Linked DNA regions of Homo sapiens: region 1 is linked to region 2. The links come from fine-mapping of genetic effects on gene expression. A gene starts in region 2. The other region holds a variant in brackets. All regions are shown on one strand. Distances are from middle to middle.

The links. PIP is the estimated chance that this variant, and not a neighbour inherited with it, causes the effect.
Region 1: its variant is fine-mapped to the expression of SRBD1 in whole blood (INTERVAL, PIP above 0.99).

Annotation. Positions count from the first base shown.
Region 1 is chr2:45,549,865-45,558,020 of GRCh38, forward strand. SRBD1 (S1 RNA binding domain 1) reads right to left here. Exons shown (of 21, transcript NM_018079.5): 11 at 3,759-3,866; 12 at 1,261-1,418. Among named protein-coding and RNA genes, the nearest start is that of SRBD1, 57 kb to the right of the region's middle. The variant C/G (reference allele first, on the strand shown) is at 3,959.
Region 2 is chr2:45,606,264-45,614,419 of GRCh38, forward strand. SRBD1 (S1 RNA binding domain 1) reads right to left here and starts at 5,004. Exons shown (of 21, transcript NM_018079.5): 1 at 4,956-5,004. RefSeq lists an enhancer at 4,655-4,824.

The DNA of each region.
Region 1 (8,156 bases), 56 kb before region 2:
TAAAAGTTAAATAAATAAAAGAATAACATAAGTCAAAATTAGAAAATCTCAGAAATTAGATGAGATAAACTGGGAATGAATTCGAGATGAAAGAAAAAATTATTTCAGAAATGAAAATCTAAACTTAAAAAATTAAAATAGTAAAGGCTAATAGAAAATAAAACAAGAAGTTAAAAGATCAAAAACATTAGAAATAAAGAAGTTCATAGGGAGCTATAACCCTATTTTTCAAAGTATCAAATGGAAATTCTAAAACTGAAAAACCAACCACTTGAACCCAGTAGATGGTTTTAGTAACAAATTAGACATAGCAGGATAGAGGATTAATTAACTTAGATGATCAACAGAAAATAAACAAAAAGGAGAGAAGAAACTGAAAGGTATAATATGTATGTAATTGGAGTTCCAGAAAGAGATGCTAGAAGCTCCACAAACCCTAAGTGGAATTCATGCAGAAAAGAAAAGACAAGAAAACCCATACATACACACCCACTGAAGCACATCATAAGAAAACTGAGAAACACAAAGAGAAAATCTTAGCAGCCAGAGGAAAAGGACATATTACCTTCAAAGGAACAATAACAAATAACCACAGTTTGGCTGACTTCTCAACAAAAATTACAGTAGCCAAAAAAAAAAAAAAGAATGACATCTTTAAAGTACTGAAAGTAACTGCCAATCTTGAATTCTACACCAAGCAAAAAATATTCTTCAAAAATGAAGGCAAAACAGAGATGTTTTCAGACAAACTAAAACTAAGACAATGTGACTCATTAAAAGTAATAGCATAGAGTTCTTCAGGCAGAAAGAAAATGATCTCAAATGGAAGCACGGAAATGCAAAAGAAATGAAGAATATCAGTGTAAATGTAAGTAAACAGGAAAAAAAATTGAGCAAAACAATAAAAATGTCTTTTGGTATTTAAAATATAAGCAGAATTAAAATGCATCATATATAAATGCATCACAATAATAGAATCTGATGGGGAATTAATAGAGTTCAAGTCCGAGCCTAATTAATCCTCAATATCTCTACTGAGATATAGGAAGCATATAAATGATAGTTGTATATTGAGGAGTTTGATCAACAAATGAGAGAAAAATGAAGTTTGATTATCTGGTTCCCAACACCCCTGTATGTGAGAAAACCACTTTTTAAGCCTTTAAAATTAACATTATTTCCAAATCCTCATGAAATGTATGAAGTGAAACTTATAACCAACCAAACAACTTTTACATGGAAAATTGCAAGACAACTTACTAGTAGGAGAAATTATAGCTAATTTGCAACCATGTTTATAACCAGGATCCACTCCCATTAAGGTGCGCCCTGGAACAGGGCTTGTTAAAAGGAGCTGACGAAGGTTCCGTCCAAACATCATTACTGATTCCTTCTCTGCATCTGATGTTAGTTTGGCTCTTTAGAAATAGAAGAAAAGAAAAAGTTTTTCATTCACCCAAATTTTCTTTCCAGAAAAGGAGCAGAATTCATTTTGTACAATTATTTCTCAAAGGATAATTTATTATAACAATATAACTTAAGAGAAAAATATACAAAAATTATATTGAGTCTATTTTCACTAATCACAGTAATATGATACCACAAGCAATTCTGAAGCAAGTCTTGTAAGTTTATCATACCTACATTACCTCTCTATCTGCTCTCTACTGTATATAAAACCCATATTTATAAATATGTGTATATGTGAGAAAGACAGAGAGTGTACGCACATTTGAATGTCACATGGGATGCAAACAAAAGTAGGCACAGTGGGCAGGGAGAAAATATCCCGGACAATGGAAACAGCATATGTAAAGGCTCATGGCTCATCATAGAAACAGCAAGTAATTTCGTATGCTAAAGTAAAAAGAAACAGCGAGACAGAAGTAGAGGCAAGAAAAAAACAGATCACAAAGGGTCATGCATGTTCTTCTCAAGAGCTTGGATTCTATCCTGGAGACAAACAAGATCAGCTGAAAGAAGTATACAAGCATGAAATTGTGAGATGAGAATTTTGAAAGGGCGATTTGTAATATGCATTGGAAAAGACAAGACAGAAGACCAAGATCATCTATGACGCTAGTTCAGTAATCCAGACAAAAAATGATGATGTCCTGAATTAAGACAGTCACCACGGAGATAAAGGGGAGGAAAAATTCAAGTTATAATAAAAGATGGCAAAATAGATAGCACTTTGTAACTGACAATGTAGAACTGATGACAGAGATAGATGTGAAAAATGACACATGGATGAATGATCATGACAGTCACGGGAATAAGATATGCAGACGTAGGCTATGCATAGTATACAGTCAACCAAATTAAGTGACTGCAAAATAAAATGGTCTAAAAAACAAACCAAGTGGGAGTGTCCTCCTCTTTAACTGCTATTCAGGTTAAGTATTCCTATCAGGAGGCGTATCTGTAGATAATACCTGCAAACTAACTTATAAACTGAAATAAGTTATATTATTTTAACCATGGGCATTTTAGAAAAAGAAAGAGAAAGTACTCTTGCTTATCTACTGCTAATGGAATTCAGAAACAGTTTATACATTAAATGATCCCACATCAAACTGTTTACATTAAACCTTGATGAAATTATTCCACATGCAGTGAAGCTACTCAAATCAAAAATATATGCAAAAAATGTCAAAAGTGCCACTAGACATAAGCAACATGAGAAAACAATAAAAAGAAAAACATACAAAAAGAAATTGAAATTTTAAATAACATAATTTTTTCCTTCAGGAAGAACCAAATTCCTAATTTTTAAAGTGTATGCCCTAGCTCTCAAAAGCAAGCGATGTTAGACAGCTTGAAGTGAAATACAATTCTAAAAGGAACAATATTTTTAGGCTACATCTAGGCTAAAATGGATGTAACAAGAGATTAAATGACTTTGGTAAAAAGAAATTGGACAACAGGACTATGTGTCTTTTTTAATAGTACCTGCTCACTCCCTGCTCTGAACCCATCTTAATTCAATGGTCAAGTCCAGCAAAAGAGAAACAAGCCCTACATAGGCTGCTAAAAATTCTAGAGAGGTTGAAGAGATGGCTACAAAACTACAGTTTTCAAGTAGCCCTTGCTGAAACCTACAAAGAAATGAGAATGAAGATAATCTATAATATTTTGGAAGGAATGAATTAGGGAATGTCTAGTTTCTAAAGATTGGGTGCAAAAACAAGGGTTACAGAGAAGCAAGAGAGAGGAGTTTTGCCTCCCTACATTTCTTTTCTTTCCATCTTCTGTCCTGAAAACAATTCTGCACCTCACCTCTTTTGCAGTTTTCATCTATATTACTTAGTCCTTCTATTAGTCCGTTCACATTGCCATTTTAATAATCTCCTAATATTTATCATTGCTGATAATTTTTCATCCAAATAACTCCCATTTGGAGTTAAAAACAAAGTAATTGATTCATCATGTACCCTACTGATTTCCTTATGCTTTCTTTGGCTCTCTTACCTCTAAAAACTGCCTCCAGCTGCAAGACTAGTATTGCAGGATTTCAAGGGGTACACATTAAGTGGTCAAGATTTGAAAAACATATCATAATTAAGAACTATTTTTATGATCTATGCATGTGAATGCATCTACAGATTGAAATCAAGCCTTAACTTTAACACTTTGTGATGCTGACTAAATTCTTTCGATTGGTTAATCAATCAACAAACATTAGCTACACACTGTAATGGTACTAGTATCATATAACAATAATCAGTACACAAAATTAAACAAGACAAGATATATACCTGAATTCTCTACAGAGAAGAGGATAAATAAGGCGTTTAAAGGAATCATTCAGTGAATTATATAAGATCTTCATTAACTCTGGCCTTGCAAAGCTACGTGGTCTCCACCTGCAAAACAGAAAAGCCCACACTAAAACTGATGCAACAATAAATAAGGCCATAAAAAGGCTCCCAAAAAGAAGGGAGATGGAATACAGAAG[C/G]GGGGAAAACCTTTATTGAAGCCAAAGTAACATAATCTGTGAGGAAAGGCTGTGGTATCTGAAAATTATTACTATGACATCTGGAGTTTTTATTTTAAAAATCCTAGTAACTATCTATGGTCAGATATAAAACAAGGAAAAAATTTCCTCTTCAGTAAAGGGTCTCCAAAGCATTATTAATAATGGCCAAAATCTTAAGATACAAGAAAGTCACCAAAAAATTATTACACCACTGCTACAGACTGAATTGTGTCCCTCCCCATATCCATACCTTGAAGATGGGGCTTTTGGGGGATAATCAGGTTTAGATGAAGTCATAAGGGTGGGGCTCTCAGGATGGAATCAGTGCCCTGATAAGAAGAGATAACAGAGGGCTTGCTCTTTCTCTCTCTTTCTCAACCATGTGAGGACACAGCAAGAATGCAGCTGTCTACAAGCCAAGGAGGGCAGCCCTCACCAGAAAATGAATCAGCTGGCATTTTGATCTTGGACTTCTCAGCCTCCAGAACTATGAGAAAATAAATTACTCCGGTTGAAGCCACATAGTCTGTGGTATTTTGTTATGTTAGTCCAAGTTAAGACAGCCACTGTATCCTTTTTTCCCCCTTTCTTTATCTCTTTCTGAGAGTTAAAGTAGACTGAGCAAAGCAGAAACTCTGTTTCAACCCTTGCCTCTTGCCATTTCTGAGAACTTACTCTATTGCTCAGGCCACAATGCTCTACCAGGCAACATCTGCATATGTAATGAGGACTATAAATGCCACAGAACCAATTGTTAATGAACACTGGGGAAAGAATAGAAGAGAAAATCACAAGCTAAAAGGACAAATGTAGCCTCACTGAAACGGTCCCTATAAACCTTATAAAATTAATCAGGAAAGAAAGGAGGGCTAGAAATGAAAATAAACCAAGCTGGCAGCACATTCAGCATTAATCATGAGGTCAGCTCACTCTCTGACCTGCTTCCTCATAGTTGTTTGGTGCCTACTGTCCTAGAATCACACAGACCCTGTTACTAGATTATAGCTCCCCTTAACTGCTCTATAGGTAACAACCTGAACATTATGAAATGTTAAGTTTTCCATTTGAATACTCTTTCAGGTCCTGTGTACCAATGAAACTACTGACATCAGCTACTATGAAAGACTCCCACCAAGAAGCTGACTCACCAAACAGTACAGTTTCCATATGCTGATGATTTTATCCCCCTTACCCCAACCAATCAAAGACCACAAATTTCCAGCTCCTTTCCCTCCACGATCCCCTTAAAAATCCTAGCCCAGGCTGGGCACAGTAACTCACATCTGTAATCCCAGAGTATGGCCTTCCAGAGGCCAAAGTGGGAGGATCACTTGGAGTTCAAGACTAGTCTGGGCAACATAGCCAGACCTTGTCTCTACAAAAAATAAAAATTTAGCTGGATGTGTTGGTGTGTGCCTGTAGTCCCTGCTACTTAGAAGGCTGAAGCAGGAGGATCACTTGAGCCCAGGAGGTTGAAGCTGTAGTAAGCCATGATGCACCACTGCACTACAGCTAAGCAACAGAGACCCTTTCTTAAAAACAAAAACAAAACAAACAAAAAAAACCCAGCCCAGAATTTTTTGGAAAAATGGATTTCAAGGCCTCCTCCCATCTCTTCACTCAGTGCCCTGCAATCATTAAACCCTTTTTTTTTTTTTTTTTTTTGAGACGGAGTCCTGCTCTGTCGCCCAGGCTGGAGTGCAGTGGCGCGATCCCGGCCCACTGCAACCTCCACCTCCTGGGTTCATGCCATTCTCCTGCCTCAGCCTCCTGAGTAGCTGGGACTACAGGCGCCACCATACCCGGCTAATTTTTTGTTTTTGTATTTTTAGTAGAGATGGGGTTTCACTGTATTAGCCAGGATGGTCTCGATCTCCTGACCTCGTGATCTGCCCATGTCAGCCTCCCAAAGTGCTGGGATTGCAGGCGTGAGCTACCTCGCCAGGCCCATTAAACTCTTTTCTCTGCTACAAACCCTGCTGTCTTGGTGTATTAGTCTGTTACGGCACAGTGGGCATATAAACCTGTTGGTCCTATGATACTATCCATTCTGTGTTTTCATCCATCTACAGCATCTCTGCCCTTGCCCTCTTGAATGAAAACCATTAACAAAATATTAATTAATATTACCTTAAGGGTACTCTCATCCCCTTTACTTATCTTAGGCTAGGAAATGAACTACATTTCACTGAACAAACATTTAAGCACTTACAATGTTTTATTCCAAAGATTACATAATAGCAACTAACTGAATCTCTTCCATAGAAAGTGTCATACAGTTTTTAAATTTTAGTGGAAGTGCTTTTAGGCAGGATATACATCCTTCCTTCCACCTAAATCCCTGCTGCTCCCTACTGTAACATTTGCCTGAAGGAATTAGGGATACAGAGGAGTAGGATTTCTCTACTCCATTGAAAAAAGGCATGAATTCAACAAACACACCTTTTTTCAATGAAACAAATATCTAAACAAATGTATGGCACAATAAATGTAAAAACAGAAATAAATGTTAAAGATATGAAGAGCTCAAAAGCAGAAGTGACAGCAAACAGCAGTATAATATACTAGTTAAAAGTATGATCTGTTCTGCTCTATGCTCTATTACTTTTTTTTTTTTTTTTTTTTTTTTTTTGAGACAGAGTCTCATCTCATTCTGTCACCCAGGCTGGAGTGCAGAGGCACAATCTTGGCTCATTGCAACCTCCACCTCCCAGGTTCAAGCCATTCTCCTGCCTCAGCCTCCCGAGTAGCTGGGACTACAGACGTGCGCCATCCCGCCCAGCTAATTTTTGTATTTTTAGCAGAGACAGGTTTTCACCACTTTGTGCAGGCCAGTCTCGAACTGCTGACCTCAAGTGATCTACCTGCTTTGGCCTCCCAAAGTGCTGGGATTATAGGCGTGACCCACCATGTCTGGCCTTGCTCTATGTTCATGGTGGATTTACTTAAGTATATCTGTGCTACTATTTCTTCATCAGTAAAATGGGAGTAATAATAGTCTACTTCATTGAATTGTTGTGAGTTAACATAAGCAAGGGACTTATAATGGTGCCTAATACATTCTATGTAAGTTTTTGCTGCTGCTGCTGCTGCTGTTATTATTAATATGGGGAATCCAATGTCAAGAAAGACTTCCCAAAAGAAACATCTGAGATAGGTTTTTTTAATGAATTGTAGTTTGCCAAGCAAGACAAAAGAATAAGGGCATTCTGGGAAGAAATTATAGCATATGTAAAAGCTTAGAGGCATGAAAAAGCACGGTAAATTGAAGTAACTATAAGGTTAGCGCTTCTAGGAAATAAAGTGGCAAGATCAACAGGAGGAAAGATGAGGGTAGAAAATGTGGCAGTGGCTGGATCATAAAGGGTCTTATACACAAAGCTATGGAGCCTGACGAGGTAGGAGAGAGAACATAGTCCTGAATCATGCAACAGTATGCTAGACAGATAGTCCTTAGAGGTAGGAAGACCCTAACAGAGGGATTTGTTTTAATGTATGTATCTGATTTGTCTCCTAAGGTGTTGCCCTTTAAGCCACTGCTTGCAGGAAAAAGCCAGAAATCTTAAATATCACCTACCCATACCCTCTCAAACCCCCAGTAGTCTTCTTCAAGTCTCAAGATCCTCCCTTGGCTTGGACTGCTCTCCTCCCCTTCCTGGAACAGAGAGCTATGGGTCTATTTAATACTTGAGGATGCCTCAATCATGCCCATTCAGTTGAACTTTAGACCACTAGACCCAGCCCTGAAAGAGAACAGCTACATTCATTTCCTACATTATAGAAACTCCTTTTTGCTCCTTACACCAAAACAATTCCTGCCCTTCACCGGCTTCCTGGGATTTATTGAAGGCACTTAGCATACTAAGGAACCTGAAATAGTATAGTAAATTCACAAACCCTGTTGCTTAAATCTTTAAACTTAAAGAAAATATGATGGGTTTGCCTTACAGGAAGTCATCTCAAAACTTGATTCTTCCTCTAATTCAACAGTTAAATACATCTGAATAAAACTAAGGAGGACTCACTTAAACCAAATATACATTGCAAAACACATGCTATGTATGTTGCATACAATGAAGCACAAAACTGAGGTGAGGGATCACAAACTCCTCCAAAGAAATATTCTCCACTTTGGCAAAGAAATATGCTCTCCCAACTTCATATATATAAGATAAAG
Region 2 (8,156 bases):
ATTCTCCTGCCTCAGCCTCCCTAGTAGCTGGGATTACAGGCATGCGCCAACACACCCGGCTAATTTTGTATTTTTTAGTAGAGACAGCATTTCTCCATGTTGGTCAGGCTGGTCTTGAACTCCCGACCTCAGGTGATCCGCCCACCTCGGCCTCCCAAAGTGCTGGGATTACAGGCATGAGTCACTGTGCCCAGCCTATTCTATATATTCTTAATGAATAAAGTAGAGGTCTCTCTACAAAGTTGGCAATGAAATAAATGATGCTGATTGACTGAGTAAGCAGCCAGGTTATTCTTAAAACAAGATAATCATTCCCTTATAATAAAAGTTCATTAAACTTAAATAAAATGATTAATCACTATGTGACTAAAAACTATTTACCAAATTCGAAGGCCAAGCTGTAAAAAAAAGTTAAGACAAATAACCAGAGACATCACATAATACGGGAAAGTAAATAAAATTACTTTAGCTGTTAAGATTAATTAGCTGTTAAAATTAATTAATAAAGGACTTTATAAGTGGCTGCCTGATATTATTACCATAAAACCATCAAACTATAAGGACTACACTAGGCTCTGACATGTTTGGAACCCTTTAAACAAGTTTCTGACCCAGTCATATGTTATAATGCCTCTGGTTCTAACATCCGCTTAGAAGAGGAAATAATCTCTCATGGAAATACTAAAGGGGTTGTCACAAAAGGGAATATGTTCTCCCAGCAGCTATAGCTCAACTCAGTCCAGTAAGTACACAATGATTGGGCAAAATAGTGCTCAGAGGGAACCAAAAGAACAACAGGAAAGCAGTCTGCAGGAAGTAGACAGGATAATCTTCCATCTTTCCCTTCACTCTCTTTTTGGCATATTAGGTTATAAAGATCATCCTTTCTCAAATTAGTATTTTTTAGACATTGATCATGAAAGAACAGGTAATTGTGATTTTTATATTATGTGTATCTTACCACAACAAAATAAGAATGGAGGAAGTTAGTGTATGACAAGGGTGGCATTTAAAATCAGGGCAGGGTAAAAATGGATTATTCAATAAATGGTATTGAGACAACTAGCTATTCCTCTAGAAGAAAAAAAGGAGTTTAATTCCTACCTCCACACCATTAACAAAAATTTATTCCCCAATAACTAATAGTTTAAAATGTACAAATTAAAACTATAAAAGAACTAAGAAATAAAGGTGATTCTTTTCACACTATTGAGGGGAGATGGGGAAATGGAGGTTTTCCTAAATATGACTCCTCAAAATTCCAAAACCAAAAAGACTAACAAATTGCAACACATAAAAATTAAAATCCCAAGCCAGTAGTGGGAGCATATGAGAACCAAACCAATTTACCCTGCAGTATTCTAAAAAAAAAAAATTCATATGAAGCAGTAGCTGATACCTTTGGAATTAAAGGTGAAACGGGTTAGGGCTGTGTATAAACTGACAAAGGAATATCTCTAAGTGTCCTACCTCACTTCATGCTATTAGGCAACTGCCCCAGGAAAAAGACTGTAAGTTTATTCTCTGGAGAAGGTATTAATGAAACAGTCTAGACTGTGGGCATGGGAACCATACAGACTGAATGCTAAAGGCAGAGAACCCTAGTCTTCCGCCACTAAATTCCTAAAATACTGCCCTCTAGGGAGGAGAATGGGAAGGCTTTTCTCTGGAGAATCTAACCAGTCCAAGAGTAAAAACTTGAAGGTGCTAAGCTTCCCATCAAACAACCCACCCAGATCACCTTACAATCACTCCTACCACCACATTCTACAATATGCCTGAATTCAGAACATTCCCACACAGACTACCATATACTAATTCTATCTCCACACTTCAGCCTTAACAGAAATGTGTTTAAAATAGGGACAGGCAAACCCTTGGCAGGCTTATGTTTTTGCTTAACCATTATCCTTAAAGAAGGCTCCCCTAAATCAAATATTTCCAACTGCCTCTTTATAAGGCACCCCGAAAGCAATATACCATGGAAAGATGAGTGAGTTGTAATATTTCTTTTCACAAATGTTAAAAATATCAATGTAAAAGGAAAGGTGGGAAAGCAGAATCTGCATGAACACACAAGCCAATTTCAAGCAGATCAGATTTAGAAAGAATATATACAAAAGCTGAAGACTTGGAAATTATGTCTTTAAAACTACCTACGACAGGTACACCCCCAGGAGTATGTATTCTCCAGTTTAAACACCAATATTCTTGAGGCCTGTTTCTCCATCTCCACTACTCCCATATCCTCTTACTTTGTGTCATAAAACTTGTTAGATTAACCAAAACCTCATCCATCTCCACGGTTTTACATACCGATGTCACCTACTTATTAACAATCCTAATCCCTCCATCCCAAACCGTGCCTTTAACATTCAGATTTCTATAATAAACTGCCTGTCTCTGAAACTATTTAGATGTCTCACAGTTAACTTAACACATCCACAATGGAACTCTTGATGACCATTTCTTGCTCTAAAACCTGTTCCTATTCCAGTCCTTCCCATCTCAATAAGTGGCACCCACCTATTTGCTAAGCCAGAACCTTGAAAAAAAAAATTTTTTTTTTTTTTTGAGACGGTCTCACTCTGTCACCCAGCCTGGAGTGATCTCAGCTCACTGCAAACTCTGCCTCCCAGGTTCAAGCAATTCTCCTGCCTTAGCCTCCTAAGTAACTGGGATTACAGGCGTGTACCACCACACCCAGCTAATTTTTCTATTTTTGATAGAGACGGGGTTCGTCACGTTGGCCAGGCTGGTCTCGAACTCCTGGCCTCAGGTGATCTGCCTGCCTCGGCCTCCCAAAGTGCTGGGATTACAAGTGTGAGCCATGGCGCCTGGCCAGAAAATTCTTTAACAGCTTCATTGACATATAATTGACATGCAATACACTGCACATGTTTAAAGTGTGCAAATTTGATGTTTTGACATATGTATACATATCACTACAATCAAGAAAATGAACACATTATCATCCTCCAAAGTTCCATTTGCTAAGTCAAAATGTTACAAATCTTTTTTTCTTTCATCTCACATATCCAGACTATTAGTAAGTCACATAAGATCCTCCTCCAAAATGTCTTGAATCTCCACGATCTTCAGTGAGCCTTTAGTCCTCAACCTCCCTCACTTGAACTACCACACTCGCCTCTTAACTGCCCTCCCTACTTCCACTCTTGCCCCTGCAACTCATTCTCCACTTATCAACTCAAGATCATTTAGAATATGCTTTAGAAACAACGAATTACTTCCCACCCCATCCTTCACTTAGAATCAAGCCACATTTTTATGAGGCCTTTGAAAAGGCCCTGTCGGACTGAGCCCTGCTCACCTTTCTAACCACCTTTACTACTTGCTGGAGCTCCTCAGCTCTTGTCATAACATTCTTTCCCACCTCAGGTACTCTCTGCCTGGAGTATTCTTCCCCCTGCTTGTCAATTGGCTGGCTCCTTGCATCCCTTAGATCTTAACATTTCAGGCCTAAAATAGGTTTCTCAATTATATTTTAAAAGGAGCCTATTTACTTCCTGTATACAGTAGGTTATAACACAATCTGTAATTATTTTTATTTTACTTGTTTATTGCTTGCACTGCTGTCAAGAGAGTAAATACCATGAAAGAAGGAAATGCATGTGCCTTATTCACTTCCATATCATAGAACCTAGCACTTAACAGATGCCCTACAACTATTAAATGAACATAATATGTACAAATATGGTCTCTACAGAGGAATATACATTTATTTTCCACCACTCTTAGGCAATGCCACACATTGCATTCATCTCTTTCTGAAGAAGTGATGGCACATAAGAATATTCCTATTCTTCAGTGACTTGGGATTTTTCCCTCCTTTCAAACTATCTTAATCACTGTAGGCACATGAGCATATTCCAAACCAATAATTTGGAGGTTGCTATGATGTTACTAAGGGAAGAGCCACTAAACTAGGACGACTGCAAATCAGGACAAAGGGGCAAAAGGACGTGCACACTAACAAATACTAAATTAAAATTGGAAAAAAAAATTTAAATTCAAGAAGGCAAACAAAGGAGGACAATTTCTTAAGAAGCACCTAAACAAGTTTCCATGAAGGACCAACAGAGTGCTTGAATGTTAGCAGATTCCCAAGTCACAAAAACAAAATACTAGAGCTGAAAGAACCTGAGATCAGACAGTCCCGCTATATTCAGAAATCTGAGACCCAATGAGGTGAAACAGTTTACTCAAAGGGGAAAGATATGTGGCAAAGGACTATAGCCCAGTGCCTGGAACACCAAGACTAGTCTCGTTTCCCATTCCACACACAATATGTTAATGACATGTCACGTGAGGGGTTCGAGGAAAGTTGCCTAGAGAGTTCCCAATTCATTCCTTTCCTCCGGTTACTGAGCGCCTCCTACATGCCAGGCGCACTACAGAAGGTGCAGTTGATTCAGACAGGGCCACCATGACCGTGAAAAGGGTGCTTCCTCTCCCACCTCCGATAATTTTAGGTATAAAAACAATCCAGGTAAATTAGCCGGGTGTGATGACGGGCGCCTGTAGCCCCAGCTACTCGGGAGGCTGAGGCAGGCGAATGGCGTGAATCCGGGAGGCGGAGCTTGCAGTGAGCCGAGATCGCTCCACTACACTCCAGCCTGGGCGACAGAGGGAGACTCCGTCTCAAAAAAAAAAAAAACAGGCTTGCCCAGGCTTTTCTATGTCTGTTATGCGCTAAGAGCTGCAGCAATTTGGCTGAAAAGAGGTGTCACGAGGTAGCTAGGAGGGGTTTTCGGGTGGTCGGTTGTGAGAGACCGCTGACAGTAAAATGTAATGAACTTCTCACTTTTAAAAAAGGGGTGTTATTGCCCAAATGAGCGCTCAGAACTTTTTTAATGGCCCCAAAGATCCCGGAGCCCGGACGCCGGGCTCTTGAGAACCCGCAAGACGACCGCCAAGGCGCACGCACAGCTCACCTTCCCGCCCGGCACGTCAGAAGACCCGAGATTCCGTGAGTGCCACCGCACCTTCCGGTTCCCGCCGGAAGTTTTTCAAACGCCAGAAGGTCCGCCTCGCTTCTTCCGGACCAAGTTAGCCACAGACCTCCAAGGCGCGGCGCTACCGAACGGGGCGGAGCCAGGCTGGACGGAGGCGGGGCTAGAGCGAGGATCCCGAGGGAGCGCCGGGGTGGGGCTGGTTCGTAGAAATGAAAAATGACTTTTTTTTTACGTGTTATTTACCAAGAACACTAAACTCTTAAGCCCACAGATACAGCCAAATAAATTAGATTATAAAAGTAGGGAAATAAGGCTGCTGTTGTCTACATTCGAATTTAGCAGATCAAAACCCCATGGATTTGTTTTAGAAAATTCTAAAAAGCAGCTTTCCACTGCTAATGACTTATTTCCAGGGACTCTGAGTACTGAAGAGCCTAGCAAGTTATTGAAATGACCTGTGACCGTGCCTTGTTGCAGATCTACCGGAAGTGAGCATAGATTTTACTGGATAATTTTTGTGATTGGGGGAAAAAAAAAAGGATTCTTTCTAAATTTAGTAAATCTAATCTTCTATATCTGAGATTGTTGGCCAGGAAAGATCAGTTTCCGAGATTGTTTAGGGATTTTTTTTTCCTTTTAATTAGCACAGTCGTATGTTGCCTTTAGTGATGGTTCCAGAAGGCCTAGAATTGTCTACTACAATCACAGTCTCCTTCACAATTTATGGTCCTGAAGAAATACTAGAGAACACCTTACCGTTCAGGATTGTGGGAAGAGAAACCAGATCATAGAAATCAACAACAATAATGTACTACTTACTATTCACCTACTTTTGATGTTGCATTTGCTACTCAGGTTTATGGTAAGGGGTTGTCTTGGTCAATTTTCTGCTGCTGTAACCAAATACCATAGACTGGTAGATTTATAAAGAAAGAGATTTGTTTGGCTTGTAGTTCTGAAGGCTGGGAAGTCCAAGACAGAGGGCATTATTGTTGTGTCAAAATATGATGGAGGGCATCATACTGGGGTAGGGGTGGGGGAGGCATGTGAACCCAATTGACTCCCGAAATAACTAACCCTCCTGTGATAATGGAATTAACTCATTCATGACCTAATCATTTCCTAAAGGTCCCACCTCTTCATACTATTACAATGACAAGTTTCAACTTGAATTTTTGAAGGGGACATTCCAATCATTGCAGAGGTAGTAAGGGTAAAGGTGAACTAATATACTGCAAAGTCTTTTGACATAAGTCCTGCCCTGGAGGAATTTACGACCAAGAGTAGGAACCAGATACAGCCAGAGGAAACAGACACCCAAGCAAAACAGTCTAGCTTCAAGGGTTGGGTATGCAGGTAGTAGCCACACTACAGTGAGGAGGAGAGTAAGAGTGGGCCAGCAAAGCATTGAAGCTTGACTTTCCTCTCCCCACAAGGGATTTTTGCCTTACAGCTGGGGAAGAAAAAAAAAATCACAAAAATAAATAGCCTGTTAAGATTTTAGACATCAGACATCTGGGGAAAATAAAATCTGAAGCAGGTTCTCTAAAATTAAAGTATGTAGGTAGTGGCCTACTCTAAAGGCCAATAAGGACTGTCCAGAGAATATTTCCCTTGGAATTCTATAAGAGAGTCACTCCCACTACACGCTGTCAAGGAAAATTTGTAATCACTTAAGTATAAAACAGGCCCTCCCACAAAAACTGCCTTTTCTGTCTAGGACATTGCCCAATCTATTGTTTACTTTTGGATCTCAAGTGCTGAATTCCAAGAAATTCATGGGTTTAGACTGAAAGCCTGGAATAATCCGGACACCCACCTGAGACTATGCAATAGGGTTTGGGAGTAATGAAAACATGTTTTGGATTTGATGGAGGTTGTTTTATCCCTCCAAAGTATATAGCTCTTCCCATGATATTCACTGATACATTATCATTTGTATGTTATTATCTGTTTTCAAGTCCTTCCCCTATGGGTTCTAGCTCCCCAGGGCAAATGTAATAATAATAGTAATAACTTACCTTTATTGATTACTTACCTGTGCCAGGCACTAAGTTAATGCTTTTAGATGTATTTATGTATATAATTCACATATTACCCCAATGCAATATTGCTATTAAACCATTTTTATAAATGAGAATACCAGGTATAAAGAAGTTAAATAATTCATCTAAGGTCACATCAGCTAATAAATTGTAGATCTGAGATTCAAATCCAATAATCTGCTTTACTCCAAAGCAAGTACTCTGAAAGGTATCCACATACAATTTGCTGTCTATCCACAGGGGATTGGTCTGAGGACCCCCCACAGATAGCAAAATTTACAGATACTCAACCAATCAGTGATAGAAAAAGTTGGCCCACCACATCTGCAGGTTCCATATCCATGAATGCAGATACAGATGGCCAGCTGTACCACAAACTCAAAGCAAAGACCTTTTCTCGCTCCACTATGGTGGCCAGTGAGACTCTCAATGTTTAAGGTGCTCCAGAACTGTCGAATCTCTAAATACTCTAAATAAAGTACTGTCTAACCACCTGAAACATAACAAAGCTATTCTCTCTATTGGCCTCAAACTAAGTTTCATAAGAACAAAAATTCTTAATATATTAATAGATGCAACTGTTTCACCTACTAATAGATATTTGGATCTAGGAACTAACTCTTGGTAATTTTTTATCTCCCCCTCTCCAACTTCTCCCTCCACCTACACAGTGCCTAATAATGCTTAACATATAATAGGTACTCAATAATATAGTAGACTAACTCCTGGACCCAAAAACATGTCTAAAGTAAAAACAAATTTTCCTCCCCTCTCCACCTTCTCCCGCCACCCACACAGTGCCTAATAATGCTTGACATATAATAGGTACTCATTAAAAATAGTACACTAACTCCTGGACCCAATAATATGTCTAGAGTACAAACAAATTTCTCTTATGAGAAAAGTAAGTTAAAGCTCTTGACACAGAAGGTGGGTTGCCATTTTAAAAATCAAGTGTACTTATGAAAATTCAAACATTTTATCTCTGAGAGTCAATCAGTGTGATGGTTAATTTTGGGTGTCATCTTGACTGGATTAAGGGATGCTCAGACAGCTGATAAAACATTACTTCTGTGTGTGTCTGTGAGAGTATTTCCAGAAGAGACTGACATTTGAATCAGTAGACTAAGTAAGG